Regions from separate parts of the Homo sapiens genome. Here regions 1, 2, 4, 5 and 6 are each linked to region 3. The links come from fine-mapping of genetic effects on gene expression. A gene starts in region 3. Each other region holds a variant in brackets. All regions are shown on one strand. Distances are between the middles of the regions.

Region 1 (5,074 bases), 140 kb after region 3:
AAAGTCCAAAATATGCACAGTGGTAATATCTGAAGATGTGCGTGCGTGCGTGTGTGTGTGTGTGTGTGTGTGTGTGTGTTTCTATTCTTGCATTTTCTAACTGTCCCCAGTGAGTATTTGTTACTTTCTAACTGAGAAGGTTACTTTAAACAGTGTCTTGAGCAGCAGCACTCCATGCCCTGGTGTAGCCTTTTCCTGGCAGATGTTCCCCAGGGCTCTGCTGCTCTGCCAATGACTTATTCTCAGCATGAACTCCTCCCCTGCCCCCTAAGAGGATCTCCAAACCCAGGTCACACTCCCCCTGCAGGTAAGTACAGGCGTTTGAGAACAGCTTTATTCTTCCAGGAACAGCTGGTCCCCTCAGCAGGGCCTTACAAGGTGGTTATGTCTAAATAAGGCACCTGAGGCCAGGAGATGTGACATGGTCCATCTAATACCATGGAGTGAGTTAGACACAGAGCAGGACTGGAACCCATGCTTCCAATTCCCCATCCAGTTTTAAGGCAATCTTCTTTTCTTTCTTTCTTTCTTTTTTTTTTTTTTTTTTTTTTTTTTGGAGACAGAGTCTCTGTCACCCAGGCTGGAGTGCAGTGGTGCGATCTTGGCTCACTGCAACCTCTGCCTCCGGGGTTCAAGCGATTCTCCTGCCTCAGCCTTCTGAGTAGCTGAGATTTCAGGTGCCCGCCACCACGCCTGGCTAATTTTTGTATTTTTAGTAGAGACGAGGTTTTACTATGTTGGCCAGGGTGATCTCGAACTCCTGACCTCAAGTGATCTGCCCACCTCAGCTTCCCAAAGTGCTGGGATTACAGGTGTGAGCCACTGCACCTGGCAAGGCAACCTTTTTTTTTTTTTTTTTTTTTGGTAGAAAATCTTTGAACTTCATATAGATGGTGTTAATGTGGGTGAGTTCAGAGCCATGTGTAAAGTTCCAGGAGGGGAGTGCTTGCTGGCTTCTCCCTTATCCCTCAACCAGATCCCAGCCCCAGCCACTTTCTGTTTCTCTTCTCTGGATAAAACTATCATTCATCTTCACCTGTTTCTATTTTCATGGATTACTGTCTCATTCATCTCAAGTAGCTCAAGTGAATGGCTGTTTTTCCATTGGATACAGGAAGACTGAGGGTGACCTGACCCTCATGGTGTGCTTGCTTATTTGAATGTCTGATGGTTTTATGGGTGTAGTCCTGCTGGAGCAGAAAGAATATCTGTTAGGAGCCTGCCTCTGGGCTCTGGTTCTAACTGTGCCACAAACTCATCGTAGCCTTAGACAATTCTCTTGTCTCTCTGGGCCTCAGTTTACCCATCTGGAAAATGATGGGTCTGAATTTAATACCTTGAGTATCATCCAGCTGTGACATACTACAACTCAGGCAAGAAGCAAATTCTCCTGACACTCCATACTCCTATCCAGTGTTCTCTGACGTCCTTCCCCAAGAGCTGTGGTACCCTACCCTGCCCACATTATGTGAGGCATTATAGCACATAGGTTAGAAGTGTGGTCTCTGGGCCGGGTGTGGTGGCTCATGCCTGTAATCCCAACACTTTGGGAGGCCGAGGCAGGTGGATCACGAGGTCAGGAGATCAAGACCATCCTGGCTAACACAGTGAAACCCCATCTCTACTAAAAATACAAAAAATTAGCTGGGTGTGGTGGCACATGTCTGTCGTACCAGCTACTTGGGAGGCTGAGGCAGGAGAATCACTTGAACCTGGGTGGCGGAGGTTGCAGTGAGCCAAGATCGTGCCACTGCACTCCAGCCTGGGCAACAGAGCGAGACTCCATCTCAAAAAAAAAAAAAAAAAAGAAGTGTGGTCTCTGGAGCTAGACCTAAGAATCCAATTCAGACTCTCTTACTTACTGACTGTGTAATTTGGACAAGTTACTTAGCATTTAGCATCTCTATTTCTTTAATCATAAAATGAACATATTAACACTTACTTCCTAGGGCTGTTGTGAAGATAAACTGAGTTGAGGTATGACAGTACCTAGCATGTAGTAAGCATCATTAAATGGTGTCTGTTGTTTTCACATATTGTAAAGAAGAAAGCTTCGTGCATCTCTTGGAATTTCTGAGGACGGTGAAGCCACAGCTGGGAAAGTCTCAGGGAGCCAGGAGTTGCTGGCCTCCTGCTTTGCATACTCAAAATTGCTGGAAAGGGGCTATAGCAGGGGGAGACATTTTTT[A/T]AAAATCCCAGTTATTGCTATTCCTCATGAGTATGTATATATCACCTGGCATCAGTACTCTGCATAGAAAGAAGCATAGCTAAAGAAAAGACACTTTGCTTTTAATATAACAGCTGTTTTCAGGGGAATAGGGTGGATGAGGATAGGGAGTACTGGCCCTCTGTCCTCAGGCCTCCCTGTCACCAGCTCAGTCACGTCTATCTTACAAATCCCCATCTAGCAGGAAGCCTGCTCTGCCCTTGGACTATAGACCTGAAGGGCTGTTGTTAAGTTACAACGTTCCCAGTGGAAGGAGGACAGTACTTAAAAGTTACAAGATGTGGGTTCTGTTCTTAGTTCTTATGGCCTGTCAGCCAGGGAACTCCTGGCCAGTAGTCTCATCCTTGAACTTCTTCTTTTTTTTTTTTTTTCTCAAGACGGAGTCTCGCTCTGTCGCCAGGCTAGAGTGCAGTGGCACGATCTTGGCTCACTGCAACCTCTGCCTCCTGAGTTCAAGCTATTCGCCTGCCTCAGCCTTCCAAGTAGCTGGGATTACAGGTGCTTGCCACCACGCCTGGCTAATTTTTGTATTTTTGGTAGAGACAGGGTTTCGCCATGTTGGCCAGGCTGGTCTTGAACTCCTGACCTCAAGTGAGCCCAGCCCTCATCCTTGAACTTCAAATTTCCACCCCACCTTACTCCCACAGGCATATACCAGTTGTTCCTTTTTCTCTGTTCTTATGCAGGAAATGGCCTGAGGTCCAGGAGTCCCCTTGGTCCCCTTTTTCCCTCACTCTCAACATTCAATTAGTCTTCACATCTACAGCCGACAATTGTAACTTCTTTTCTTTACTCCATTATTTCTTAGGTGACAACAGGAGCTTCTTTGTGGTCTTCTTTTTTCTAAAAACACTAATTCAGAACTCTAGCATGTTTAGATCTTCCTTACTTAAAACCCTTTCCTGGTCCCCATAACCTACTGAAGAAATCCTAAGCTCCCTGGCTTGGCCTCTGTCTACATTTCTCTGATCTCTTCCAGCTCTTTCTCTGTATCCTAGCCATACTGAACTACTTGCAATTCCCAAACAGGGTACACACTGTACTAGTTGTTCCTGCAAGAGACAGGAACACACATCCCCCCACACTAGCTTAACAAAACAAAAAATGCATTTCTCTCTCATGCAAAAGAAGTCCAAAAGTAGACATTCCAAACTTAATATGGTGTTCCAGTGTCAGAATCCAAGTTCTTTCTACTTTGTGGGTTTGCCGTTCTCAGCATATGACTTCCACTTTATGGTCCAAAATGACTGCTCAAGCTCCAGCCATCACATCCACATTTCAGCCAGGAGGAAGAAGGAACAAGGAAAGGCATAACCTTGCCTCTAAGGATAGTTCCTGGAAGCCACACTTGCTTACATTCCATTGGCCAGAATTAGTCACCCAGCCATATTTATCTATAAGAGAGGCTATGAAATTTTTTTATTTCAGGGAGTCTATTTTAGGTTGCCATGTGCAAAAGTAAAAACCAGAGGTGTTGGTGGTCAAGGAAGAAATAGCGAATGGATGCTGGGTAACATCTGGCAGTCTCTGCCACACACTCACACATTCAGGGGTTTGCACGTGGTTCCCCGTGTCTCAGACACCCCCTCTCTCATGCTTACAGTCTCTGCTTGGCATCTTCTTTTTTGCCCCCTAACACTTGCTCTTTTTTTTTTTTTTTTTTTTCGAGATGGAGTCTCACTGTTGCCAGGCTGGAGTGCAGTGGTGCAATCTTGGCTCACGGCAACCTCCGCCTCCTGGGTTCAAGTGATTCTCCTGCCTCAGCCTCCCGAGTAGCTGGGACTACAGGCACCCGCCACCATGCCCGGCTAATGTTTGTATTTTCAGTAGAGACGGGGTTTCACCATGTTGGCCAGGATGGTCTCAATCTCTTGACCTTGTGATCCACCCGCCTCGGCCTCCCAAAGTGCTGGGATTACAGGTGTGAGCCACCGCACCCGGCCCAACACTCGCTCACTTTATGGCCATCCTCATACTACCTCTGTTGTTGCACCATCACAGCGTGTTAACCATTGTTCAATTGTCCACCTTTCCCACTACCCTGTGACCTCCTGGAGGGCAGGGACTGTGTCTTTCCTTTGGCTCCTTAGCACCCAGTATAGCTGCACAATCTCCAGCCAAGGTAGACCGACCACCAATATTTCTTGTCTCAAAGATATATTGAGGAAATGAGAGTATATTCTTCAGGCTTCCAGGAACTTCCTTACATCTGTAGGAAGGTATGGGCATGGGGATAGCTCAGTGATTGTAGAGGCTCGTGGCAGATTGCTTGCTATTCTTTGGGTTGCACACAGGCCGTCTCTCTTGCCATAGTTTTTTCCAGATACTGCAGTGACATTGATTAGGTCTCAGCCTTGGCGATGTAGACTGAGGTGGAGAGGGATTATTGTCATGATTCTTGCTTTCGTTTCAGTCAGTTCTTGATTTGATTTCTGCCATTTATTCCTCTCAATTTTTACCTGGGCAACATCATCTCCCGCCTGCTTTTTAAGGTGAATGTTGACAGCTGATTTCATATATTAATTCTGGCTTTCTTAAGAGGGACATGGCTCCCTTCATTCTTAAGCCTTTGGGGCTACTTTTCTTTCTCATTCACTCATGATCTCCATTTGATCCGCAAGACAGCTCATATTTGAGAGAGCAGAGCAAATGTGTTATTCCCATTTCACCGATCAGAAAATGAGGGCCGGCCGGGCGCGGTGGCTCATGCCTGTAATCCCAGCACTTTGGGAGGCTGAGGTGGGCGGATCACGAGGTCAGGAGATCGAGACCATCCTGGCTAACAAGGTGAAACCCCGTCTCTACTAAAAATACAAAAAAACCCCCAAAAAATTAGCCGGGCGTGGT
Region 2 (5,074 bases), 62 kb after region 3:
CACATTCCACCATGCCTGGCTAATTTTTGTATTTTCAGTAGAGACAGGGTTTCACCATATTGGCCAGGCTGGTCTCGAACTCCTGACCTCAAGTGATCTGCCCGCCTTGGCCTCCCAAATTGCTGGGATTACAGGTGTGAGCCACCAAGCTTGGCCTAAAGCTTCTCATCTCTATCTATTGAATGCAGGTGACTCATTTCCACCTGCCAGATTCTTAATGATCATTAGAGCGAGAGAAACTGCCCAGCAGCACAGCACTAGCATGTGTTCATGTTCAGTCCATGGTGTTAATATTTGTGATGATAGGCATAGACTATTGATAGACTTGATGACTATATTCAGTCATCTGTGGGTAGCTACTTGGTGTGAAGAATTCCTTGGCTGGGGCTGAGGAGAGTTCTCTACCTCACCTCAACCCCAGCCGCCTTCTCCCATCCCTCCCTCTTAGACCAATCCCTTCCTACAGGATGTTCTTTTTTTTTTTTTTTTTGATTTCCTCTAAAAAATTTCAATAAAGAAAATAAAGCAGGAGGTAGAAAGCAGGAGAATCGCTTGAACCCGGGAGGCAGAGGTTGCAGTGAGCCGAGATCGTACCATTGCGCTCCGGCCTGGTCAACAAGAGCAAAACTTCATCTCAAAAAAGAAAAAAAAAAAGGATATAAACCAGCTTCTGGCATTACCCAGGAGCAGCTGACCTAGATGCTTGTTCCAGTAAGTTCTCCTCACTCCCTCTCATGCTTGTCCGCCTCCCCACCTCCTCCACCCCTGCTTCCAGGCTGTCTGCAGACCGCTGGGCCGGGTTTCACAGTATTGGCGTGAATCAGCTTGCCAGGCTTCTACCCTTTGTGCTTGGTGGTAGCTAACTGACTTTTTTCTTTTTCTCATGTGGTCAGGATTTTTCCACTGAAGCATTTCTTTTATGATGTGGGAGAGACAGATAGCACCTGGCTAGTTGCCTTCTTTTGGACTTGCTGTGATTTGACTTTTCAGCCAGGCCAGGTATTTATTTTCCCTTGGGTGGAGTGTGGTTCTCCCAGAGATGCCTCATTCATGATTCATTTGTTCAGGGCATACAAAAGGCATTTCTTAGGACCTAACCTGGGCCTAGCGGTGTGGTAGGTGCCTGGGCTTCAGAGAAGGCTAGGATGGTTGCTAATTCTCTGAAAGGTCATGCCCTAATAGAGGAAACGGACATAGAAACTGTGAGGGGCGCTGTCTTGGGGTCTGTACAGGGTGCTGTGGGAGCACAGGGAAGGGTTCCTAACTCACACTGGGGATCAGGGAGGCTTTGGCTCCTGATACTAAATGACCTCTTATTTGATACACTTTTTATGTCAGACTTGCTGGTTCTTTCCACACATTGAGTCAAAGGGTGTCTCTGGTTCCTCCCTGGATGGACTGATACAGGCCATTTCACTCACTCTCCCAAGGGTTTATCTCCTCTGGCCTCTCCGAGTCTCACCTGGAGGTGTGTGTTCCTGTGGCGTGGGTTCCTTGGGAGCGTGGGTGATTCACCGGCTGGCCTCATCCCATACTGATCCTCTGGGGTGATCCCTATTCACCTTGTCTCCTTTGCTGTCATAACTCCACTGCTGGGGGCAGAGGTGGAGATGTTGAGCTTGTGGGCAGGAATAAGTTCCACTGAGCCACAGAGCTTGACTCTGCTCACCTTCCCACAATAGAACTCAGAGTTGGAATCCTTTCCCCAGCCACCTCCCCTCCCATCTGAGGACAGAGGGTAACCTGCCCGTCATCTCTGGGGTTATCTCCAATTTTCAGTCTCCCTCATCTCCAGCTGACCTCCCATATGGCCAAATCGATCCTGAGGTTGGGAATCCAGTTCTTCAAACTGAGCCCTTCAGACTCTGCTGTGGTACGTGAAAACAGTTTCAGTATCCCGCCATAAATACCTTCCAAAATTCTAAATGTAGTACATGACCATTGATATGGTTTGGCTGTGTCCCACCCAGAATCTCATCTTGAATTGTAATCCCCATATGTCAAGGGAGAGACCAGGTGGAGGGAATTGAATCATGGGGGCTGTTTCCCCCATGCTGTTCTCATGATAGTGAGTGAGTTCTCACAAGATCTGATGGTATTTTAAGTGTTTGGTACTTCCTCCTGCTGCCTTGTGAGGAAGGTGCCTTGCTTCCCCTTTGCCTTGCACCATGATTGTAAGTTTCCTGAGGCCTCCCAAGCCATGTGGAACTGCAAGTCAATTAAAACTCTTTCCTTTATAAATTACCCAGTCTCCGGCAGTTCTCACACAGAAGTGTGAGAATGGACTAATACAATCATGACCTTAAAAAATAAATAAATAAATAAATAAAACATGGCCGGGCGCGGTGGCTCCCGCCTGTAATCCCAGCACTTTGGGAGGCCAAGGCGGGTGGATCATCTGAGGTCAGGAGTTCAAGACCAGCCTGGCCAACATGGTGAAACCCCGTCTCTACTAAAAATACAAAAAAAATTAGCTGCATGTGGTGGCGGGCACCCATAATCTCAGCTACTCGGAGGCTGAGGCAGGAGAATCGCTTGAACCTGGGAGGCAGAGGTTGCAGTGAGCTGAGATCTCACCACTGTACGCTAGCTTGGGCAACAGAGTGAGACTCTGTCTCAAAAACAACAACAACAAATATTTGAGGCCTACTTTTTTGAGAACAGAAAAGCAAATTAGACGTGGTCCTTGCCCCTAAGGTGCTCACAGTCCACTATCTATCTAGGTCAGATATTTTCCACTGCTGGTCAGTGTTTATGAGGCAAACTGTTTACTAACTTGCCTAACACTGCCTGTCCCGTGCAGTTCTTCCTGGATTGACGGCAGCTAGATCCTGTGACAGAGGACAGCTGTTCCCCGCTCCCTCCCATCACTCCCCTCCTCTGTCTCCTGGCCATAGCTGTGGGCTGCAACTCTGACTTGAGTGTTTGTGTCCCTAGTGCGTTTAGCTTCGGGTGGGGGCTGCCTTTGCAGGTACTCGATAAACACCTGCATGGGGAGTTGAAATAACAAGTTCTTAAAGGAATCTAATTCGAGGGCACACTGCTGGTGGGCCCTGTTTGGTGGCCCTTGGGCTGAGCACATGCTTTGATAGTTCACTCTCAGAAACATCCAGTCTGGTTCTTAAGTGGCCA[G/T]AATGACCCGATGGAGTTAAGATTTCCCGTTTTTGGCATAGGGTCACCTGTACGTCTTTCATTCTAAACAAAAAAGTCAAGCATGTCTTGTCCTGTTCTCTCAAGCGTGTTAGCGAGATGGAAGACATAATGGTGGCCAGAGAAGCTGGAAGCAAAACTAAACAGAGGTGCAGATTTGCAGAAGCTACCCCTTGGCATCACGGGGTGCAGTTTTTCTCTGCTTCTCAGTTAGATAACTTGACAGAGTTTTATTTATTTATTTATTTATTTATTTATTTATTTATTTATTTATTTATATGTTTTAGAAAACTAAGAGGCCTAGGTAAATAACTGTGCCTTAAAGCCCTTCTTTCCAACCAGGAGTAGCAGCATGCTAGAAAAGAAAAGGGTGGGCCTGGGAAACTAGATTTGAATTTTGGTTTTGTCACTTTCTAGCTGTGTGGTCTTTCGAAAATCATTTGATTCCTCTGAGCTTCAGCCTCTTCACCTGTAAAATAATCAACCCACAGCATTACTCAGAAGATTTACAATAAAAGAGAAAACCTAGCACATTACGTTATGTAAGCGATACTTATAACAATGATGATAATGATAATAATCATCATCATAATAACAATTGAATGGTGGGCTCTCTGCTGCTGCATGTAGGTAGACATGGCTCTACTTCGTCATCAGAGAGGGTCTCTGTGGCCTGAAGCACTCGGCAGGCTCCTTGCCTTCCACATATTTCTATGTGTTGGGATGAGATTGTCTTCAATCCTTAAATATCAACTAGTAGAAGCCTAGTACAGCTTCACCTTGGAGGAGAAAAATATGTCGATTCAGCTCTACTCAGCAACTTTTTTAAAGTGGAGAGATTGAGAGAGAAAGAGAGAGTAATTGAAATAATGCCCACAGTTCTGACAGCCTCTTGATCAGCTGAAAGCCCACAAGTGCAGGTGGGGAGACATGAATTCGAGTTCTCTCAGTCTCTGTAGGGTGAGCAGCTTGTTGGTCCAGGTGTGATCCCAGTATTTAAATGTTTGTCTTTTTAGTGTAACATGGTAGTAAACTGAAGACAATTACTTCTTCTGGTGCACATCCTGATCCCTTTCAGGGCTGGAGTCTAACACAGCTGTGTTAGATTCACTGAGTGAATTTTATATGAGTGTTCAGGGCTGTATAAACAGACCATATATTCTGTATTTCATAGGTGATTCAAAGTGGGGGGACTTTTTGTTTGTTTAACTTTCATTTACTGCACATGAATAGTCATACAAAATAAGATGTTATTTTAACTGACTTCAAATTCAGCTGTTTATTTTTTCATTTTTGCTGTAGATATTTCAGTATGTATATTTAAAAGATAGAGACCCTTTAAAAATAGGCCGGGGCGCAGTGACTCACACCTGTAATCTCAGCACTTTGGGTGGCCAAGGCGGCCAAGGAGTTTGAGACCAGCCTGGCCAACATGATGAAACTCCGTTTCTACTAAAAACACAAAATTTAGCCAGGCATGGTGGGCGCCTGTAATCTCAGCTACTTAGGAAGCTGAGGCAGGGGAATCGCTTGAACCCAGGAGGCGGAGGTTGTAGTGAGCCAAGATCACGCCACTGCACACTCCAGCCTGAGCAGCAGAGTGAGACTCCCTCTCAAAAACAAAAAAAAAAGAGACCCTTTAAAAATAAAAACTACAAGATACTATTATCACATTCAAATAAGTAAGTAAGTAAGTATTCCTTAATACCAGATATGGAGTCAATATTCAATTTTCCTCAATTATTATATATATATGTGTGTATGTGTATATATTAGTGTTTGAGTGTATGTATATAGATATGGGTGTGTATAGTTTTAAAATAGTTTGTGTATTCAAATTAGGATCCAGATAAAATCCAAGTGCAATAGATTGATAAGACCTTTAAGATTGTTAAAATGGGCCAGGCATGGTGGCTCACGCCTG
Region 3 (5,074 bases):
TAGAGACAAGGTTCCACTGTGCTAGCCAAGATGGTCTTGGTCTCCTGACCTCATGATCCGCCCGCCTAGGCCTCCCAAAGTGCTGGGATTACAGGCGTGAACCACCGCACCAGGCTGTTCTTAGTTCTTAAGTAATGTTGACATATGGGTGATGATGAAGGAGATGATTAAAGCTTTCAAAGAAAGTGGAAGAATGTGTCAAATTCTCTCTTCACTTCCTAGATGACTTCAGTTTCCTAATCCATAAAATAGGACTAAGACCATTACTTATCTGATGAAAAGGAGAGACAATGTAATAAATAAGGTGCTTTGAATCCTGTATTAGTCCATTGTCACACTACTGAGAAAATTATAAATTACCTGAGACTGGGTAATTTATAAACAAAAGAGGTTTAATTGACTCACAGTTCCATATGGCTGGGGAGGCCTCAGGAAACTTATAATCATGGTGGAAGGTGAAGGGGAAGCAGGGCACATCTTACATGGCGGCAGGTGAGAGAGAGAATGCAGGGGAAATGCCAGACACTTATCAAACAACCAGATCCCGTGAGAGCTCCCTATCACAAAAACATCATGGGGGAAACCGCCCCCCACGATCCAATCACCTCCCAGGAGGTCCCTCCCCTGACACATGTGGATTACAATTCAAGATGAGATTTTTGGGTGGGGACACAGAGCCAAACCATGTCAGATCTCCAAATGGTAGCTATTATTTAGATGTCCTTTTCTTCTGTCTTGTTACAGTCACTGACACAGTTCAGGCTCTTATTATATCTCCATTGATGTCAGCTTCCAATCTAGTCTCTTGCATTCTCTGCTTCTGCCATCTATTTTCCAGTGTGGTGCCAGAGGAATCCTTGTAAAATACAAAGATGCATGTCATGCTACTGCACAGAATCTTTTAATAGCCTCCTTTTTTTTTTTCCCTTTTTCGAATAGGGCCTAAAATCTTCAATGTAGCATCCTTCCAGAAATAGTCTTCTGAACTTGGCTGCTTCTATTCATTCACGCATACATACATTTTACTGTCAGGAGCACCTTCTATATGCCAAACACTAAGCTACGTGTTTCACGTAGGTCATTTCACAGGATCCTGAAAACAACGCTTTCCTTAATATCTCCATTTTGCAGAAGAGGAAAGGGAGGCTCACAGGATGTGGAACTCACCCAAGAAGGCACAGCGAGTTGGTCATAAAGATTTGAATTCACTCTGGCTGGCACTCCCTTCAATTGGAGCTCTTTGTACTGAGCAAAAATGCCTCAGGGGCAGCAGGGAAGGGAATGACAGTATCAGCAGAAGGGAGCCAGGATCAGGACAGGGAGGAAGCAGTGTTTGGAAGAAGGGTGCTGGGGACAGGGTGCGGATGTAACTTCCCTTTCCAAGGTTGGTGATGTGGGGTAGGCACCTCATTTGGAGACAGAACTCTGGGCCTGGGCTTCAGGCACTTTAAGTGTGCACTGGACTTTGTGTTCCCAGAGGACCCCCAAACCTTCCAGTATCTCCTTCCTTTCCCCTTTCCCACCCAGCACACAGCCTGGTGCCTAGTGTGCACTCAGTAGACAACTGGGATATGACTATTGCCTCTGGTAGTCACATCCTCTCTTTGGGCTATGGGAGGCTGGACTGGAGGCCTTAAAGGCCCCTTCCGCCCTCCTGTTGGGCAGTTTTTCTTTCTTAGGGAAATCGCCTTGGGGCTATCGGGGATGGTCAGTACGCAGCTTGGTTAATCCTCTTTCCTTCCCCAGCAGCCCCACCGTCGTCCGGGTGAAAAGAAAGAACCTCGCTCCCTTCACCATCCAGGCTGAGGCTTCAGTCTTTCAGCCTGCAGCTTGGGGTGGAAGCCTCTGGGTGCAGGGGTTCGAGGACGCTCCTCTCCTTCTGTATTTGCCATTTGAGAGCGCCCAGTAGGAGTCATGCCTCAATGTTAGGAGGTTAATGCCAAACGCAGTGAAAGATTTTGTTCTTTCCTATTCTAGATAAGAGCAACACGAGTCTTCGGAGAGGTTAAGCGACTTCCTCAGGGTCTCGCAGTCAGCCGGTAGCAGAGACCGGGTGTACAGCACCCGCATGTTAGGACCAAAAGCCGGACACTGCTGGATTGACCCCTCGCGGCCAAGCGGGGAAGAGGCATTTAGGGGTCCTTGCGCAGCCGCGTGGCCCCTCCCACTCGGCCCTCGATCCACCCTCCTTGAGAGCAGGCAGGATTCTAGCATCACCCAGTGCCTTCATCAAGAGTCTTTAACCCCAAGCCCGCTCGCTAGCGACCTCCAGGCCGGTTTGGGGCGCGGTGTGGCCGGTGGCGAGAGGTGGAGTGGGGGCGGAGACCGACCCAGTCTTCGCAACTCTATTTGCATACGGAGGCGACTCGCTTCCTTCCCGCCCCTCCGCCGCGCTCTTCTTCCTTCCTTCTCCAGTCCCTTCCACTGTGCGTCTTCTGTCCCCCGTTCTTCCCCAGCGGACCCCTCTTTCGAGACTCCCTAGTGGGGTCCCCAGCTCCCGGGCGATCCTGCCCTTGCCGAGCGCGTTTTCTGGAGTCACCTGGGGGAGGGGAGTCCTGGGCAGGGCCGGGCTGGGGAAGACGCCTGGGGCACTGCCCGGCGTTAACAAAGGGAGCCGATACCGACCGGCGTGGGCGCGGAGCGGGCGGCCGCCACCGAGCGTGCTGAGCAACCGCAGCCTCCGCGGCCGAGAGTGCAGCGAGTGAGTAGGGGGTGCGGTGGGCGGCGGCGCGGCCCGGGCTATCCCGGGAGGAGTGTGATGCAAAGGGGCGCGGGAGGATAGCGGAGGCGCGGGGCCCGCGGCGCGCGTAGGGCGCAGGGAATCTCTCTCCAGCTCCGCCTCAGCTGCCTTGGCTCCGGGGCTGGCCGCCTTTTGGTTGGGGGTGTGTGCATTTTTGTCAGGGCCAAAGGGCCACCCTGGCTTCTCTCTGGCTCCGCGAGCCTGCGGATCCACAACAAACCCACGTGCGCACAGCCCCGGGGAACACGGATTTCTCCACGGCACCGTCAGTATGGGGTGGGGTGGCGTGGGGGCATTGCGCCTTGCAGAGTCTGGGTTTACGGATCGACAAATTGAGGCCCGCGGCAGCGGAGGGGGCACAGGCACCATAACAAACGCACGTGCGCCCTGCCCGGAGAGCTGGACGCACTGCATACCCTTAGGGGCCGCCCTGCGGTGCCGGGCCATTGTCTCAGCCTCGGGGGAGGGAGTGGCTCTAGAGGCGCCACTTGCTGGAAGAGGGCGAGAGAGACATTTAAAAGGTACCGCTTGGGCATCAGACTAAACTGCCAGACTTAAAAAGGGAAACCAAAACAAGAAAGCAGCTACAAAAAGGTTACTCCAGGCTGAGTCGGTCCCCGGCCGTGGCGCATTCTTTTGGGTGAAGTGGACCACCCCTCACCTTCACCTCCTGGAGGTCTCTTAGAGATGTGGGTTGGGTTAAGGGTCTAAGGGTGCCCCTCAAAAAAAGAGAGTGCTGGGTGCACTATTGTCCCCGCACTCCGGCGATTGCCTCTGTGGGGATATTTTGGTCGCCTCCTCAGCCTGCGGGAAGAATGTACGAGTCGCCCAGTGCGGTCTTGCTCTTTGCCTCTGAGGCCCGTGTCCGTGTGCCCAGACACCCCAGATGTCACTAGCCCCTTTTGGCTTGTTAATGCATTTTCGCAAGCAAGGCCAGCCGAGACCTCGTATTCTAGCTGGGGACGTACAATTTTCAGTTCTGAGTTTATTTGAAAGAAATTCCGAGGTCCGGAAAAAGAGAACTCTTGTTTGTTTTGCTTTTTCTTTGCTTACATATGCTCAGCTCAGCTTTGCAGATGTTAATCGGACACGATCTGCAGCGGGGAGATGGTTTCGCGGTGAATTGGTCTCTGAGGCGATGGTGTTGGTGCAGGTTGTGGGCGTGCAGTGTGAGCAGGAATGGAGGCGCCGCCGCCCCAGTGTGTGCCTGCTGAGCGGGCGGGCTGCTGCCTCACCTTGGCTAGTGTGGCTGAAGATTAACCTGTCCCCGGGGGGGGAACTGGAGAGCCTCCAATCCTATTCCGCTGTTATTGAAAAGGTCTAGAGAGCATCTAGGGAGCCTTCTCATTTTACAGGCAGGAAGCTGAGGCCGGAGAGTTCAGCCACTTGTCCAAGTTTAAACCGGGTGAAACGGGCCACAGAGAGAACACTTGAGTGTGGGTCTCCCAACTCCCACTGCATCGCTCAGCGGGCAACTAAAGGCAAAACCGGGATTCTGTGATTGGCCTAAAAGGCAGTGGCCTTAGGCAGAATAGGGTGAAACAAAGAGTAATTCAAATAGAAAGCTGCACCCTTCCATTATCCCTTTCAAGAATTCTTTATTCTGTTGAGAAAAAATAGATTTAGTAATTCCTTACTCTCCTTCAAGCCTTTCAAAAGCTTAGTTATTTTTCTCTCCTGGCTGCCCCTTCCCCTCAAATTGGAATAAGGCCAGCTACGGAGACTCAGATGTTTTGCCTCTCATCCTTGTGCCAGGAGGCCTTTGTTTGGGCAAAAGCATGGGCTGTTGACATCAGCCCCACGGGGAAGAAAGTGTGTCTTAGCAAGCTACTCCTGAGCCACTTGTGGGAGAACAAAGCATTGTTTTCACTGATCTTATTAAAGTTACTTTTTTTTTAACGAGAGTCCCATGGAAGTAGCTGCTTATTTTTGTATTTGGCAGAGAAGTAGGAAAACCAAAAAAACACTGAGAAGCCGGATTTCCCCAAAGTTAACATGTTGTTTTGCACTGTGCCTGTTATCTCCTAGTTACACTTGTTTCTTTTCCTTAGAGTTTCCAGCGTGTTTCACTTTCAATGTGATTCTGGTAGCAACAGGAGGCAGCTGGATGCCTAGGCAGATAGGGTCAGGTACCCGGTGAAACCCCCACCTCCAGGCCAAAGACAGTTTAAAGCCTGAAAGCCAAGCTACGAGTTAAATCCTCAGACCAGAGTGAGAACTTGTTTGGCGTGCTTTCCCCTAATTGATTCCTACATTTCGCCTGTTTTACATATACCCACTTTTTCCTAATTGGTTTTCTACGCTGCCGTGCCCACCTTTGAGTGGTGTCTTTGC
Region 4 (5,074 bases), 49 kb before region 3:
ACTCAGCTAAGGTGGTGACAGACAGATCTCTCCATTGTAGTGGTCCATTTTTCTTTTTGCAATTTACAAGCAATAGTTTTTGCATCCACCAATGATCATTTGTTCCTTTTAAACCCACTAGATTGGCAAAAATTTTAAAAATCTGATAATACCAAGGGTTAACATAAGTGTAAAGTCATTATTAATTGCTGGTAGGAGTGTAAGTTGATCAAATCACTTTGGAAATCCATTTCATATTATCTGCCAGAGCTGAAGAGGCTTATAGTTTACAATCCATTCTATCTTCCACCATTTTAAGAGAAACTCTCACGCAGGTGTACAAGGAGACACACACAATAATTTTTATAGCAGATTGTTTTGTAAGAGCAAAACTTGGAAACAACCCAAATGTGCATCAAAAAAGGAATGAATAAAGTTTTATATAGTCAAACAATAGGATACTGTAAAATAGTAATATTGAATGGCCTAAAGCCACAAACATCAGTCTGATGAATCTCACAATCATTACACACACACACACACTCTCTCTCTCTAGGAGGAAACATGCAAGGCTTTTGATAAAGATGCTGAAATTAACACATGTATTTGCCTCTGCTGTTTCTCCAAACTCCACTAAAACAACAGCAAATTTTTTTAAAAAGCATAAATGTTTGCACAAAAGCAAATGAAGAAGAGGGTAGACAGGGGCAATAACAACTTGCAGGCATAACTAATGATAATGATTTAGCAGACTGAAAAAGTTACTCTTAAGCTGGCAGGGAAAATGCAAAGAAGTACTATATATGTTTCCCAAAACACACAAAAGTTTCAGGAATTGGCAGCACCAAGTATCTCTTGCAATAGGAGTAAATATGGGCTTAAAAAAGACAAGTTGGTTTCAATTCTACTCTAAACCTGCAGCATGATGACTGTCCCTCTCTAGTCTGGCAGAAGATTGAGAGGGTAAAACAAAGGGCTCGGGTGTAGGACTGGAAAAGTGGTGGTTATAGCACTAATTTAGCATTGGACAGGTAGGGTGCTGGATCCTAGGAGGCCTGTGAAAATAGCTTAGGTATTCAACAATGGGTACAGCCACGGAGGCCTACACAGATTCAACAGATTGGTAGAAAGGAGGAAACAAACATAACAGAAATGCAAAGAGAAAAAGAAGGTACAGTGAGAGTGAGTGAGAGAGAGAATGATTTGCAGATGTGAGGTAAGATTTCAGAGGTGAAGTTCTAGTGATGACCAAGCCCTTGGTTTCTCTTCGAGGAAATCTTGCTGAGAAACATGCCCCTAAAAACAGCTTTGATGCCTTGTGATTAGGGGCGATGGCTTTCATTATTTTCCTCCACTCTCAATAAGCGCCAACAGAAAAAAGCTACTCCAGAATCTTCTTTGTTGCAATATGAGGCAGAATGAACAAAATTGCAACAGCTACTGTTATAATAGGAAGCAACATGGTGTAAGATGTAGTTTTAACAAGTAGAAGAGGCCCTGGTGCATCTGATTTGCCCTCTCTGAGTGCCAGAGCGTTAGCTACCATTGTCAGGAAGCCTGTCTCGTGCGTCTTGACTTTCCCAACATCTAGAGGACTTCTTTAACCTAATGAGATGAAGATGAGCTGAGAATGACATCTTGAAAAGATCTGAGCCAGTAGTTTTCCAAGCGGTTCTCAGACCAGCAGCATCAGCGTGGGAACTTTGTAGAAATGCAAATAATTTGGGATCTATCCCAAACCTATCGAATCAGAAGTTTTTGGGGTGGAGCCCAGCAATATGTGTTTTTAAAAGCTCTTCAGGTAAGCACACCAAGGTTTGAGAATCACTGACCTGGATGTAATTTTTTATAATTTTTTTAAATTTTTTTGAGTCAGAGTATCCATCACCCAGGCTGGAGTCTAGTGGCGCGATCTCAGCTTACTGCAACCTCCGCCTCCTGGGTTCAAGCAATTCTTGTGCCTCCGCCTCCCAGTAGCTGGAATTACAGATGCACGCAACCACACCCAGATAATTTTTTTTTTTTTTTTTGAGATGGAGTCTCGCTCTGTCACCAGGCTGGAGTGCAGTGGTGCAGTCTTGGCTCACTGCAACCTCTGCCTCCCAGGTTCAGGTGATTCTCCTACTTCAGCCTCCTGAGTAGCTGGGATTACAGGCATGTGCCACCGTACCTGGCTAATTTTTGTACTTTTAGTAGAGACGGGGTTTCACCATGTTGGTCAGGCTGGTCTCGAACTACTGACCTCGTGATCCGCCAGCCTCGGCCTCCCAAAGTGCCAGGATTACAGGCATGAGCCACCGCACCCAGCCAGTTTTTGTATTTTTGTAGTGATGGGGTTTCACCATGTTGGCCAGGCTGGCGTCGAACTCCTGACCTCAAGTGATCTGCCCACCTCAGCCTCCCAAAGTGCTGGGATTACAGATGTGAGCCATCGTGCCCGGCCTAGATGTAATTTTTAGTCAACTTAAGCATGTGTAACCATATGCAATTATGCGCAAACAGTATAAATAGAGCTGATGTTAATCTCTAGCCCCGTTGCCTGGAGTGTTGGTGAAACTCTTTTATTTTGTAATCCTTTTTATATTTTAGTGGATGTTTCTATTGATTCTCTTCTGTACCCGCTGTTTCCTCTTTTATTGGAAGACACTAAAACAATTCAGAAATTTTTATAGGAATGCAGAGGATTCAAAATGTCTGAGTC[G/A]TGCTCTTCCAAAGCAAGAATCATGTCATAGCCATCTTTTTTTTTTCTTGTAAGAGCTTTATTGAAATATAGTTTACATACCACACAATTCACCCGTTTAAAGGAATCCCCTCTCCTGCCAGTCAATGCTTTTTGGGTTTCACAGAATTGTGAAACCATCAGTACAACCAATTTTAGACGAATTTTATCATCCCCAAAGGAAACCTCATACCTATCAGCAGCTACTCCTCATTTCCTCTGAAATCCTCCAGTCTTAGCTTTTACTAATCTAGTTTCTGTTCCTATAGATTGCCTAGCCTGGACATTTCATGTAATGCATTACACTATGATGTTTCACGACTGGCTTCTTTCACTTAGTATAATGTTTTGAAGGTTCATCCATGTTATAGCATTTACCAGTACTTTATTTCTTTCAATTGCTTAATACTCCCTTATGTGGATACACAGTAGTTTCCTCTTATCTGGGGGGCATATGTTCCGAGTTCTCCAGGGAATGCTTGAAACCACAGATAGCACCAAATCCTATATATACTATGTTTTTTTCTATATATAGATACTTAGGATAAAGTTTAATTTATAAATTATAAGATAAAAATAGAAATAAAAATAAATTAGGCTCAGTAAGATATTAACAACAGCAATAACTAAATAGAACAATTCATAAAAATATGCCAGCATCACTGCTTTTGTGCTTTAGGGCCATTATCAAGAAAAATATGGGTGACTTGAATACAAGAACTGTGATACTGTAACTGTCAATCTGATAGTTACTAAGTGACTAATGGTGTTATAGAGAACATAGATGCACAGGACAAAGGGATGATTCACTTCCTGGGAAGGATGGAGTGGGATGACATAAGATTTTATCATGCTACTCAGAACAAGACACAGTTTCAAACTTTTTTTTTTTTTTTTTGAGACAGCGTTTCCACTCTGTCACCCAGGCTGGAGCACAGTGGCTCAGTCTCTGCTCACTGCAACCTCTGCCTCCCAGGTTCAAGCAATCCTCCCGCCTCAGCCCCGCAAGCAGCTGGGACCACAGGCATGCGCCACCATGCCTGGCTACTTTTTGTATATTTTGTAGAGATGAGGTTTCACCAAGTTGGCTAAGCTGGTTTTGAACTCTGGGCCTCAAGTGATCTGCCTGTCTTGGCTTCCCAAAATGCTGGGATTACAGGAGTGAGCCACTGCACCTGGCCTGCACAATTTAAAACTCATAAATTGTTTATTTCTGGAGTTTTTCATTTCACATTTTCCCAATGCAATTGACTGTATGTAACTGAAACTGCAGAAGGTGAAACTGCGGATGAGAAGAAGCACTACTGTACTACATTACATTTGTCCATTCATTAGTTGATGGACATTTGGGTTGTTTTCACTTTGGGACTATTATGAATAATGCTGCTAAGAGCATTTGTGTACAAGTTTTTGTGTATGCATATATTTTCATTTCTCTGGGTATACATACACCTAGGAATGGTAACTATGTTTAACATTTCGAAGAACTACCAGGCTGTTTTCCAAAGTCACAAGACACGATTTCAAGATTTTTCTTTTTCTTTGAGACAGATTCTCCACTCTGTCACCCAGGCATTGTACCATTTTACCTTCCTGGCATCAGTGCATGAGAGTTTCAGTTTCTCTACATTCTCATCAACATTTGCTCTTATCTGTCTTTTAAATTATAACCATCCTAGTGGGTGTGAAGTGATATCTGATTGTGGTTTTGATTTGCAGTTCCTTGAGAACTAATGATGTTGAGCATTATTTTTGTGGTTACTGACCATTTGTGTATCTTCTTTGCAGAAGTGCCAATTTAGATTCTTGCTTTTATTTGTTTATTTAGTTAGTTTTCAAGACAGAGTCTCTCTCTGTCTCCCAGGCTGGAGTGCAATGGCTTGATCACGGATCACTGCAGCCTTGTCTTCCCAGGCTCAAGCAATCCTCTTGCCTCAGCCTCCCTAGTAGCTGGGACTACAGGTGTGTATCACCACGCCAGGCTAATTTTTGTATTTTTTGTAGAGACAGGGTTTTGCCACGTTGCCCAGGCTGGTCTCAAACTCTTCGGCTCAAGCCATCTGCCCATCTTGACCTCCTAAAGTGCTGGGATTACAAGGCTTCAGCCACCACTCCCAGCCTGCTAAGAGTTTTATGGTTTCACCTCTTATGTTTAGGTCTTTTATTTTATTTTATTTTATTTTTTAATTGATCATTCTTGGGTGTTTCTTGCAGAGGGGGATTTGGCAGGGTCATAGGACAATAGTGGAGGGAAGGTCAGCAGATAAACAAGAGAACAAAGGTCTCTGGTTTTCCTAGGGAGTGGTGATGACTCTTAACGAGCATGCTGCCTTCAAGCATCTGTTTAACAAAGCACATCTTGCACCGCCCTTAATC
Region 5 (5,074 bases), 22 kb before region 3:
CAGTGGTGTTTATAGTATTCTCTGATGGTAGCTTGTATTTCTGTGGGATCAGTGGTGATATCCCCTTTATCATTTTTTATTGCTTCTGTTTGATTCTTCTCTCTTTTCTTCTTTATTAGTCTGGCTAGCAGTCTATCTGTTTTGTTGATCTTTTCAAAAAACCAGCTTCTGGATTCATTTATTTTTTTGAAGGTGTTTTTGTGTCTTTATCTCCTTCAGTTCTGCTCTGATCTTAGCTATTTCTTGTCTTCTGCTAGCTGTTGAATTTGTTTGCCCTTGCTTCTCTAGTTATTTTAATTGTGATGTTAGGGTGTAAAGTTTAGATCGTTCCTGCTTTCTCTTGTGGGCATTTAGTGCTATAAATTTCCCTTTAAACACTGCTTTAAATGTGTCCCAGAGATTCTGGTATGTTGTGTGTTTGTTCTCATTGGTTTCAAAGTACATCTTTATTTCTGCCTTAATTTCATTATTTACCCAGTAGTCATTCAGGAGCAGGTTGTTCAGTTTCCATGTAGTTGTGTGGTTTTTAGTGAGTTTCTTAATCCTGAGTTTTAATTTGATTGCACTGTGGTCCGAGAGACTGTTACGACTTCCGTTCTTTTGCATTTGCTGAGGAGTGCTTTACTTTCAATTATGTGGTCAATTTTAGAATAAGTGTGATGTGGTGCTGAGAAGAATGTATATTCTGTTTATTTTGGGTGGAGAGTTCTGTAGATATCTATTAGGTCTATTGTTCCAGAGCTGAGTTCAAGTCCTGAATATCCTTGTTAATTTTGTCTCATTGATCTGTCTAATATTGACAGTGGAGTGTTAAAGTCTCCCATTATTATTGTGTGGGAGTCTAAGTTTCTTTGTAGGTCTCTAAGAACTTGCTTTATGAATCTGGGTGCTCCCGTATTGGGTGCATATATATTTAGCGTAGTTAGCCCTTCTTGTTGCATTGATTTCTTTACGATTGTGTAATACCCTTCATTGTCTCTTTTGATCTTTGTTGGTTTAAAGTCTGTTTTATCAGAGACTAGGACTTCAACCCCTGCTTTTTTTTGCTTTCCATTTGCTTGGTAAATATTCTTCCATCCCTTTCTTTTGAGCCTATGTGTGTCTCTGCACATGAGATGGGTCTCCTGAATACAGCACCATTGATGGATCTTGACTCTTTATCCAATTTGCCAGTCTGTGTCTTTTAATCGGGGCATTTAGCCCGTTTACATTTAAGGTTAATATTGTTATGTGTAAATTTAATTCTGTCATTATGGTGCTAGCTGGTTATTTTGCCTGTTAGTTGGTGCAGTTTCTTCATAGTGTCGATGGTCTTTACAATTTGGTATGTTTTTGCAGTGGCTGGTACCGGTTGTTCCTTTCCACATTTAGTGCTTCCTTCAGGAGCTCTTGTAAGGCAGGCCTGGTGGTGACAAAATCTCTCAGCATTTGCTTGTCTGAAAAGGATTTTACTTCTTCACTTATGAAGCTCAGTTTGGCTGGATATGAAATTCTTGGTTGAAAATTCTTCAAGAATGTTGAATATTGGCCCCCATTCTCTTCTGGCTTGTAGGGTTTCTGCTGAGAGATCCGCTGTTAGTCTGATGGTTTTCCCTTTGTGGGTAAGCCGACCTTTCTCTCTGGCTGCCTTAACATTTTTTCCTTCATGTCAACCTTGGTGAATTTGACGATTGTGTGTCTTGGGGTTGCTCTTCTGGAGGAGTATCTTTATGGTGTTCTCTGTATTACCTGAATTTGAATGTTGGCCTGCCTTGCTAGGTTGGGGAAGTTCTCCTGCATAATATCCTGAAGAGTGTGTTCCAACTTGGTTCCATTCTCCCCATCACTTTCAGGTACACCAATGAAACGTAGATTTGGTCTTTTCACATAGTCCCATATTTCTTGGAGGCTTTGTTTGTTTCTTTTCATTCTTTGAAAATACTATAGTATTAAATAATGATAATTATAACAAATCTTGTCTTCTCACTTTATTTCATTAAGTTCATCTTCAATCTGTGATATCCTTTCTTCTGCTTGATTGATTAGGCTATTGATACTTGTGTATGCTTCACGAAGTTCTGGTGCTGTGTTTTTTAGCTCCATCAGGTCATTTATGTTCTTCTATAAACTAGTTATTCTAGTTAGCAATTCATCTAACCTTTTTTCAAGGTTCTTAGCTTCCTTGCATTGGATTAGAACATGCTCCTTTAACTCGGAGGAATTTGTTATTACCCATCTTCTAAAGCCTACTTCTGTCAATTCGTCAAACCCATTCTCCGTCCAGATTTGTTCCCTTGCTGGCAAAGAGTTGTGATCCTTTGGAGGAGAATAGGCATTCTGGTTTTTGGAATTTTCAGCCTTTTTGTGCTGGTTTATCCCCATCTTCATGGATTTATCTACCTTTGGTCTTGGATGTTGGTGACCTTCGGATGGGGTTTTTGTGTGGACATCCTCTTTGTTGATGTTGATGCTATTCTTTTCTGTTTGTTAGTTTTCCTCCTAACAGTCAGGCCCCTCTGCTGCAGGTCTGCTGGAGTTTGCTGGAGGTCCACACCAGACCCTGTTTGCCTGGATATCACCAGCAGAGGCTGCAGAACAGCAGATTGCTGCCTGTTTCTTCCTCTGGAAGCTTTGTCCCAGAGGGACACCTGCCAGATGCCAGCCAGAGCTCTCCTGTATGAGGTGTCTGTCGGCCCCTACTGGGAGGTGTCTTCCAGTCAGGATACACAGGGGTCAGGGACCCACTTGAGGAGGCAGTATGACCCTTATCAGAGCTCGAACGCTGTGCTGGGAGGTCCACTGCTCTCTTCAGAGCCATCAGGCAGGGACGTTTGAGTCTGCTGAAGCTGCACCCACAGCTGCCCTTTCCCTCAGGTGCTCTGTCCCAGGGAGATGGGGGTTTTATCTGTAAGTCCCTGACTGGGGCTGCTGCCTTTTTTTCAGAGATGTGCTGCCCAGAGAGGAGGAATCTAGAGAGGCAGTCTGGCTACAGTGGCCCTGCTGAGCTGCGGTGGGCTCCACCCAGTTTGAACTTCCTGGCGGTTTTGTTTACACTGTGAGGGTAAAACCACCTACCCAAGCCTCAGCAATGGCGGATGCTCCTCCCCC[G/C]ACGAAGCTTGAATGTCCCAGGTCAACTTCAGACTGCTGCGCTGGCAGCGAGAATCTCAAGCCAGTGGATCTTAGCTTGCTGGGCTCCGTGGGGGTGGGACCCTCTGAGCTAGAACACTTGGTTCCCAGGCTTCAGCCCCCTTTCCAGGGGAGTGAACGGTTCTGTCTCGCTGGCATTCCAGGTGCCTCTGGGGTATGAAAAAACAACTCCTGTAGCTAGCTCAATGTCTGCCCAAACGGCCACCCGGTTTTGTGCTTGAAATCCAGGGCCCTGGTGGCATGGGCAACTGGAGGGAATCTCCTGGTCTGCAGGTTGCAAAGACCATGTGAAAAGCACAGTATCTGGGCCAGAGTGCTCTGTTGGCCACGGCACAGTCCCTCACGGCTTCCCTTGGCTAGGGGAGGCAAATCCCCCGACCGCTTGTGCTTCCTGTGCTTCCTGGGTGAGGCTACACCCCACCCTGCTTTGGCTCGCTCTTCGTGGGCTGCACCCACTATCCAACCAGTCCCTGTGAGATGAACTGGGTACCTCAGTTGGAAATGAAGAAATCTCCTGCCTTCTGCATGATCTCACTGGGAGCTGCAGACCGGAGCTTTTCCTATTCGGCCATCTTGCCAGCACCAATTTTTTTTTCATTTTCAGTAGAGGCGAGGTTTCCCCATGTTGGCCAGGCTGGTCTTGAACTCCTGACCTCAGGTGATCCACCCGCCTCGGCCTCCCGAAGTGCTGGGATTACAGGCATGAGCCATTGCGCCTGGCCTATCATAACATTTTTAATATCATATTATAGTATTAAATAAAGATAATTACCATTATTATAACAGCGAACATCTATGCACTACTTGCTGGACACTGTGTCAAGCACTTTAAATGCATCGTAATTTCTGGCATATTAATTTATTAATCATATTAAGTCTTCAAGTTCCTTAACCTCAGGGTATGGGAGGTAAGAGAGCAGTAAGGTTCATAGTTTTTCTTTTTCTTTCTATTTATTTATTTATTTATTTATTTTTGAGATGGAGTTTCACTCTTGTCTCCCAGGCTGGAGTGCGATGGTGCGATCTCAGCTCACTGCAAACTTCGCCTCCCGGGTTCAAGCAATTCTCCTGCCTCAGCCTCCTGAATAGCTGGGATTACAGGCATGTGCTACCACGCTCAGCTAATTTTGTATTTTTAGTAGAGATGGGGTTTCTCCATGTTGGTCAGGCTGGTCTCGAATTCCTGACCTCAGGTGATCCTCCCGCCCTGACCTCCCAAAGTGCTGGGATTACCAGTGTAAGCCACCGCATCCAGCCTATTTATTTGTTTTTTGAGAGTGAGTCTCATTCTGTAACCAGGCTAGAGTGCAGTGGTGTGATCTCGACTCACTGCAACCTCCACCTCCTGGGCTCAAGCGATTCTCCTGACTCAGCTTCCCAAGTAGCTAGGATTACAGCATGTGCCACCATGCCCAGCTAATTTTTGTATTTTTAGTAGAGACAGGGTTTCACCATGTTGGCCTGGCTGGTCTTGAATTCCTGACCTCAAGTGATCCACCTGTCTCGGCCTCTCAAAGTGTTGGGATTACACGTATGAGCCACCATGCCCGGCCAGGTTCGTAGTTTTTAAAGTTTGGAAGATACGAGTTCCCATCCCAGCTTCAATCTATGCGAATTTAAACAAGTTTCCCATTTCTCTTGCTCAAAAAAATGGTTGTTGGGCTTTTTTTGTTTTTTAACCAAAGTGATAACATGATATCCAGAAAAGTAGAAAGAAGAAAACAATAAATTACCTCCATATCCCACCATTTAGAAATAAAATTAAAATTTGTGAGCATGCTTATAGATATTTCCAAGTGGATTTGTATGTTAGAATGATACATAAATAAATTCAAAACTAATAACCTAGGATTATATTCTATATTCTGTTGTTTAAAAGTGAAAAAAGAGGTCCTGACGCAGTGGCACACACACCTGTAATCCCAGCAGTTTGGGAGGCCGAGACAGG
Region 6 (5,074 bases), 91 kb after region 3:
AAAATCTATAGCTGAATATTCTGTTGATGGTTTTAAACCATAGAAATAAATATTCAGGAAGTCTCTATTGAGTAGCTCTATAGGGTAATGCTAGCTGCTAGAGCAAATAAACTCACGTCTTAACCATCTTGGCCCAGAAGTGATGTATGTTATTTTTGCTCACATTTCTTTGCCAATAACTAGTAAAATGATCCCATCTATATGCTGTGTGTGTTTGTGTGTGTGTAAAATGCAATCCCTCTCTGGACAGTAATTTACAGCAATAACTATATGGCAGAAGGAGCAAACTTCTTGTGGGGCAGCCAGCTATCCCTGATATGAGGAAAGAGAAAGAAGGGTCAGCATTAAGTGGCAGCTCAGGTGGCACACATTAAGAATCCAAGCTCTTAGAGAAATGGGAGTCCTTCATGGGAGAGGGTTTCTGGCAGCCAGGACACATGGAGCCCCTCTCGGAGGCACTATGCCACCCTCTGGGGGCAACAGGGTGTCAAGCACTCTAAGTCTAAGAACAGAAAGTTTGGGTTCTAAGGTCCAGATGAGGGTGAGGTTTGTGCACTAAAGATTAAGGAGATGAAGATCAGGGCAGAGTAAATAGGTGTCACCAGAAGGTCAATACAGTGATTAGCAACTGTAGTTGGTGTGATAAAGCAGAGAGGCTCGCAGTAGCCCTTGGAAGGGCCTGAGTAGAGGGACATAGGATGAAGAGCACTACCAGTTTGTTGGTTAGAATAATCTGGTCAGCCGGGCATGGTGGCTTATGCCTGTAATCCCAGCACTTTGACAGGCTGAGGCGGGTGGATCACGAGGTCAGGAATTCAAGACCAGCCTGGCCAAGATGGTGAAACCACGTCTCTACTAAAAATACAAAAATTAGCCGGGCGTGGTGGCGGGTGCCTGTAATCCCAGCTACTCGGGAGGCTGAGGCAGAGAATTGCTTGAACCTGGGAGGTGGAGGTTGCAGTGAGCCGAGATTGCACTGCTTCACTCCAGCCTGGTAACAGAGCGAGACTCTGTCTCAAAAACAAACAAACAAACAAAAAACAAAACACACCGTGGTTTCACCATTTACAGTGACATCTTGAGCAAATGACTTAAACTCTCTGAGTTTCAATTTCTTTATTTAAAAAAGAGGATTGTTAATACCCCACCCCACAGGGTGGTGGTAAGAATTAAATTTGGTAACATCTATAAGACCTGCTGTTCATTACAGTTGATTCTTAAGGCAGCATCCGGTGATGCCTTTGAAACATACATCGGCAAAGTCTTAATCAGATGAAAGCCAAAACCCCTACACCTGTGTAAGGCGCCACATTATCTGGCTGCCCCTGTGTAGGTATTTTGCTGTTCCCTCTACTTGCAACCCTCTTTTCTCAGAAATCTGCATGGTAGCCTCCTTCATCTCTGTTAACAGAAAAACCAAATTCTGTAAAATATTTTCAAGAAGTTTATCCTGAGGCAATATGAGTTACTGTAGCTTAGAGAAAACACAAACCCAAGAAGCCTTGAGTGAGTGGCCCTGAGGCAGTTGGGCCATAGTCTGGTTTTATACATTTTAGGGAGACAGGCATTACAGGCAAGGATATCTGGAAATCAGTACATGGAAGGTAACTGGTAGTTCTGTCCAAAAAATGTGAGACATCTCAAAGTGGGGGAGGGTGCGGTGTTAGGATATATGTATTGGTGGTTTTTTTTTTTGTTTTTTTTTGAGATGGAGTCTCGCTCTGTCACCCAGGCTGGAGTGCAATGGCGTGATCTCTGCCCACTGAGCCTCTGCCTCCTGGGTTCAAGTGATTCTCCTGCCTCAGCCTCCTGAGTAGCTGGGATTACAGGAGCATGCCACCACGCCCGGCTAATTTTTGTATTTTTAGTAGAGATGGGATTTCACCATGTTGGCCAGGATGGTCTCGATCTCCTGACCTCGTGATCCACCTGCCTTGGCCTCCCAAAGTGCTGGGAATACAGGCGTGAGCCATCATGCCTGGACTATGTGTTGGTTTCCATGCATGTTTCCTGGCGCATAGCCCCATAGCCCTTGCTACAGTCTTGCTAGAATGCTGGGCTTTTTAGACTTCAGGGACAGGCCCTAAGAAACAGTCTCTCTCCTGCCGTCCTTTCACCTGCCCCAAGGCAAGGTTTTTATGTTTTCTGGCCTGACTGTGGGCCTTACAACCCTCCCATGAGGCCAGGCATAGTGGTTCATGCCTGTAATCCCAGCACTTTGGGAGGCCGAGGTGGGTGGATCACCTGAAGTCAGGAGTTCGAGACCAGCCTGACCAACATGGTGAAACCCCGTCTCTACTAAAAATAGAAAAATTAGCCGGGTGTGATGGTGGGCGCCTGTAATCCCAGCTACTCGGGAGGCTGAGGCAGGAAGAATTGCTTGAACCCGGGAGGCAGAGGTTGCAGTGAATCAAGATCATGCTACTGCACTCCAACCTGGGCGACAGAGCGAGACTCTGTCTCAAAAAAAAAAAAAAAAAAAAACCTTCCCATGAGAGGTTCCTACCCTATGCCCTGGGGGAAGAAATGCTGACGTCAAGGAAGCTTCTATAAAAACCCAAGAGGACAGGGTTGGGTGAACTTTCTGATAGCTTAATAGGAGGAGGTTCCT[G/A]TAGGGCGGCACAACCAGGGAGGGCGTGGAAGCTCTGCATCCCTTCTCCCATACCTTGCTCTACACATCTCTTCATCTGTATCCTCTGCAGCATCCTTGATGATAAACCAGTAAATGTAAGTAGGGTGTTTCCCTGAGTTCTGTGAGCCGCTCCAGCAAATTAATTGAACCCACGGAGAGGGGAACCCCAATGGAAGCTGGTTGGTCAGAAAGAAGTTCTGGAGGCCTGGACTTGTGACTGGTGGAGGGGGGATGTCTTGGACACTAAGCCCTCAATCTGTAGGATCTGACACTATTTCCAGGTAGATAGTGTTGGAACTGAATTAGAGGACACCAAGCTGGTGTCGCTGCTTGGTGTTGGGGTGGGACCCCCACACATATGGTCACATAAGTCATCTTCTGTGTTGATTGTTGTGGTGTGAGAGCAGAGGAAAGATGGCTACAGAGAGTTTTCCCTACACAGGGACTTGGGGGGTAGAGGGTTAGGGGAGGGCTGAGGGGCCTTACAAGTCTTAAGTGCGTTTTAGGGATTCTTTAGCTAACAGTAGCTGAGAGAGTCAAGTTATTGTCTAGTGACTTGAAGTCAGTAGGAAGGAATGCCTGAGTAAGATAAGGAGGTTGTGGGGGCCTAGGTCCTTGGAGCCTCATAGATAGCAGCCCTCTGGGTGAATAGATAGTGATTGTCTCTTCTCAGACCTTTGGGTGTCTGACTCTCAGTTAGAATCTCTCCTAGATCTGGGAAAGGCCTAGCAAGGGAAGAGACATTAATATCGATTCTCTGGAGATGCACGTTTCCCCCACCAAAGATGGCTTTGCAGTCCAAAGGCTGTCTGGCAGCCTTTTCCAAATATGTCAAAGAAATGTATTTTGGGGCAAAATATTTTAATTTCCTTCAGAGTCTGCTGTCTGTCATGTGATACTATACCAGAGTCAGGTTGGAGAGTAAGCCACATTTTACTGGGTTAATTAAAAAACCCATTTAATGAGACTGTATTGTTTCTAGGGTATGACTTAATCTTTGCCTTTTATGGCCTTAGGTATTGTGTATAGTTTGGTATCTTATTGTCATAAAGGGTCTGTTTGGTCAGTCTTATAATCTCTATTTTACCTTAATGCTGGTCACTTGTACCTAAACCCCAAAAGGGAGGGGTATGATGAGGGTGTAACCTCCTTTCTGTCATGGCTGGGAATTCAGTTTTTCAGGTTTCTCTGGGGTGCCCATGGCCAAAAAGGAGTCCATTCAGTTGGTTAGTGGGGGGCTTAGGATTTTATTTTTGGTTTACACCTCCTTCCAACCCTTGCTCAAATGTCTTCTTCTCAGTGAGGCTTTCTCTGATCATCTGATTTAAATCTCCACCTCACCCACTCCAAGCTGTCCCTATTTCTCTTCCCTACTCTAATTGTCTGCATATCAGTTATCTCCTTGCAAAGCACCACGGATTTATGTTGTTTGACTCTTTATTTATCCTCACTATAAGGTGAGTGCTGGAGGGGTTAGGGATTTCTGGCTGGCTTCTCTACTGCTGTGTCTGCAGTCTGGTTCACAGTAGGCAATCAGCATTTGCTGAAAGAATGAACCTATAGCTTGGAACCAACCCAAATGTCCAACAATGATAGACTGGATTAGGAAAATGTGCACATATACACCATGGAATACTATGCAGCCATGAAAAATGATGAGTTCACGTCCTTTGTAGGGACATGGATGAAGCTGGAAACTATCATTCTCAGCAAACTATGGCAAGGACAAAAAGCCAAACACCACATGTTCTCACTCATAGGTGGGAATTGAACAGTGAGAACACATGGACACAGGAAGGGGAACATCACACACCGGGACTGTTGTGGGGTGGGGGGAACGGGGAGGGATAGCATTAGGAGATATACCTAATGCTAAATGATGAGTTAATGGGTGCAGCACACCAACATGGCACATGTATACATATGTAACAAACCTGCACGTTGTGCACATGTACCCTAAAACTTAAAGTATAATAATAATTAAAAAAAAAAAAAAGAATGAACCTATCGCATGAGTATTGGTGTAAGTTTTCTTACAGGCCCCGGGGCCACCACAAAGTAGAAGAACTCAACCTTCCCTATTCATTTCCTCACCTCCAACTCCCTTAGACTACCAGGACTTAGATCCTTTTGGGTATATATATACATATATATGTTTTATATATATACATATATACATGTTTTGCTTGTTTGTTTGTTTTTTGAGACAAAGTCTCGCTGTGTCACCCAGGATGGAGTACAGTGGCATGATCTCTGCTCACTGCAATCTCCGCCTCCAGGTTCAAGTGATTCTCCTGCCTCAGCCTCCTGAGTAGCTGGGACTACAGGTGCATGCCTCCACGCCTGGCTAATTTTTTGTATTTTTAGTAGAGACGGGGGTTTCACCATGTTAGCCAGATGGTCTTGATCTCCTGACCTCGTGATCTGCCCGCCTCGGCCTCC

What was found.
Region 1: its variant is fine-mapped to the expression of ST6GAL1 in whole blood (TOPMed, PIP 0.96).
Region 2: its variant is fine-mapped to the expression of ST6GAL1 in skeletal muscle (GTEx, PIP above 0.99).
Region 4: its variant is fine-mapped to the expression of ST6GAL1 in fibroblasts (GTEx, PIP above 0.99).
Region 5: its variant is fine-mapped to the expression of ST6GAL1 in naive CD8 T cells (Schmiedel 2018, PIP 0.95).
Region 6: its variant is fine-mapped to the expression of ST6GAL1 in platelets (CEDAR, PIP 0.95).

The regions. Positions count from the first base shown.
Region 1 is chr3:187,066,553-187,071,626 of GRCh38, forward strand. All of the region lies in intron 5 of ST6GAL1 (ST6 beta-galactoside alpha-2,6-sialyltransferase 1), which reads left to right. Among named protein-coding and RNA genes, the nearest start is that of RPL39L, 70 kb to the right of the region's middle. RefSeq lists a silencer at 209-258. The variant A/T (reference allele first, on the strand shown) is at 2,189.
Region 2 is chr3:186,990,178-186,995,251 of GRCh38, forward strand. All of the region lies in intron 2 of ST6GAL1 (ST6 beta-galactoside alpha-2,6-sialyltransferase 1), which reads left to right. LOC124906314 (a long non-coding RNA gene) reads right to left here and starts at 4,775. Exons shown (of 3, transcript XR_007096208.1): 1 at 1,463-4,775. RefSeq lists a silencer at 664-958. The variant G/T (reference allele first, on the strand shown) is at 3,133.
Region 3 is chr3:186,928,134-186,933,207 of GRCh38, forward strand. ST6GAL1 (ST6 beta-galactoside alpha-2,6-sialyltransferase 1) reads left to right here and starts at 2,393. Exons shown (of 8, transcript NM_173216.2): 1 at 2,393-2,701. RefSeq lists enhancers at 2,008-2,616, 4,710-4,759, 4,780-4,839 and silencers at 2,304-2,383, 2,624-2,813.
Region 4 is chr3:186,879,491-186,884,564 of GRCh38, forward strand. No RefSeq gene overlaps it. Among named protein-coding and RNA genes, the nearest start is that of ADIPOQ-AS1, 21 kb to the left of the region's middle. RefSeq lists enhancers at 567-1,067, 1,068-1,568. The variant G/A (reference allele first, on the strand shown) is at 2,681.
Region 5 is chr3:186,906,301-186,911,374 of GRCh38, forward strand. No RefSeq gene overlaps it. Among named protein-coding and RNA genes, the nearest start is that of ST6GAL1, 22 kb to the right of the region's middle. RefSeq lists enhancers at 2,633-3,328, 3,091-3,190, 3,261-3,310, 3,329-4,023. The variant G/C (reference allele first, on the strand shown) is at 3,088.
Region 6 is chr3:187,019,278-187,024,351 of GRCh38, forward strand. All of the region lies in intron 2 of ST6GAL1 (ST6 beta-galactoside alpha-2,6-sialyltransferase 1), which reads left to right. Among named protein-coding and RNA genes, the nearest start is that of ST6GAL1, 91 kb to the left of the region's middle. RefSeq lists a promoter at 2,125-2,702, a cis regulatory region at 2,609-2,702, an enhancer at 2,705-2,974 and a silencer at 4,941-5,030. The variant G/A (reference allele first, on the strand shown) is at 2,612.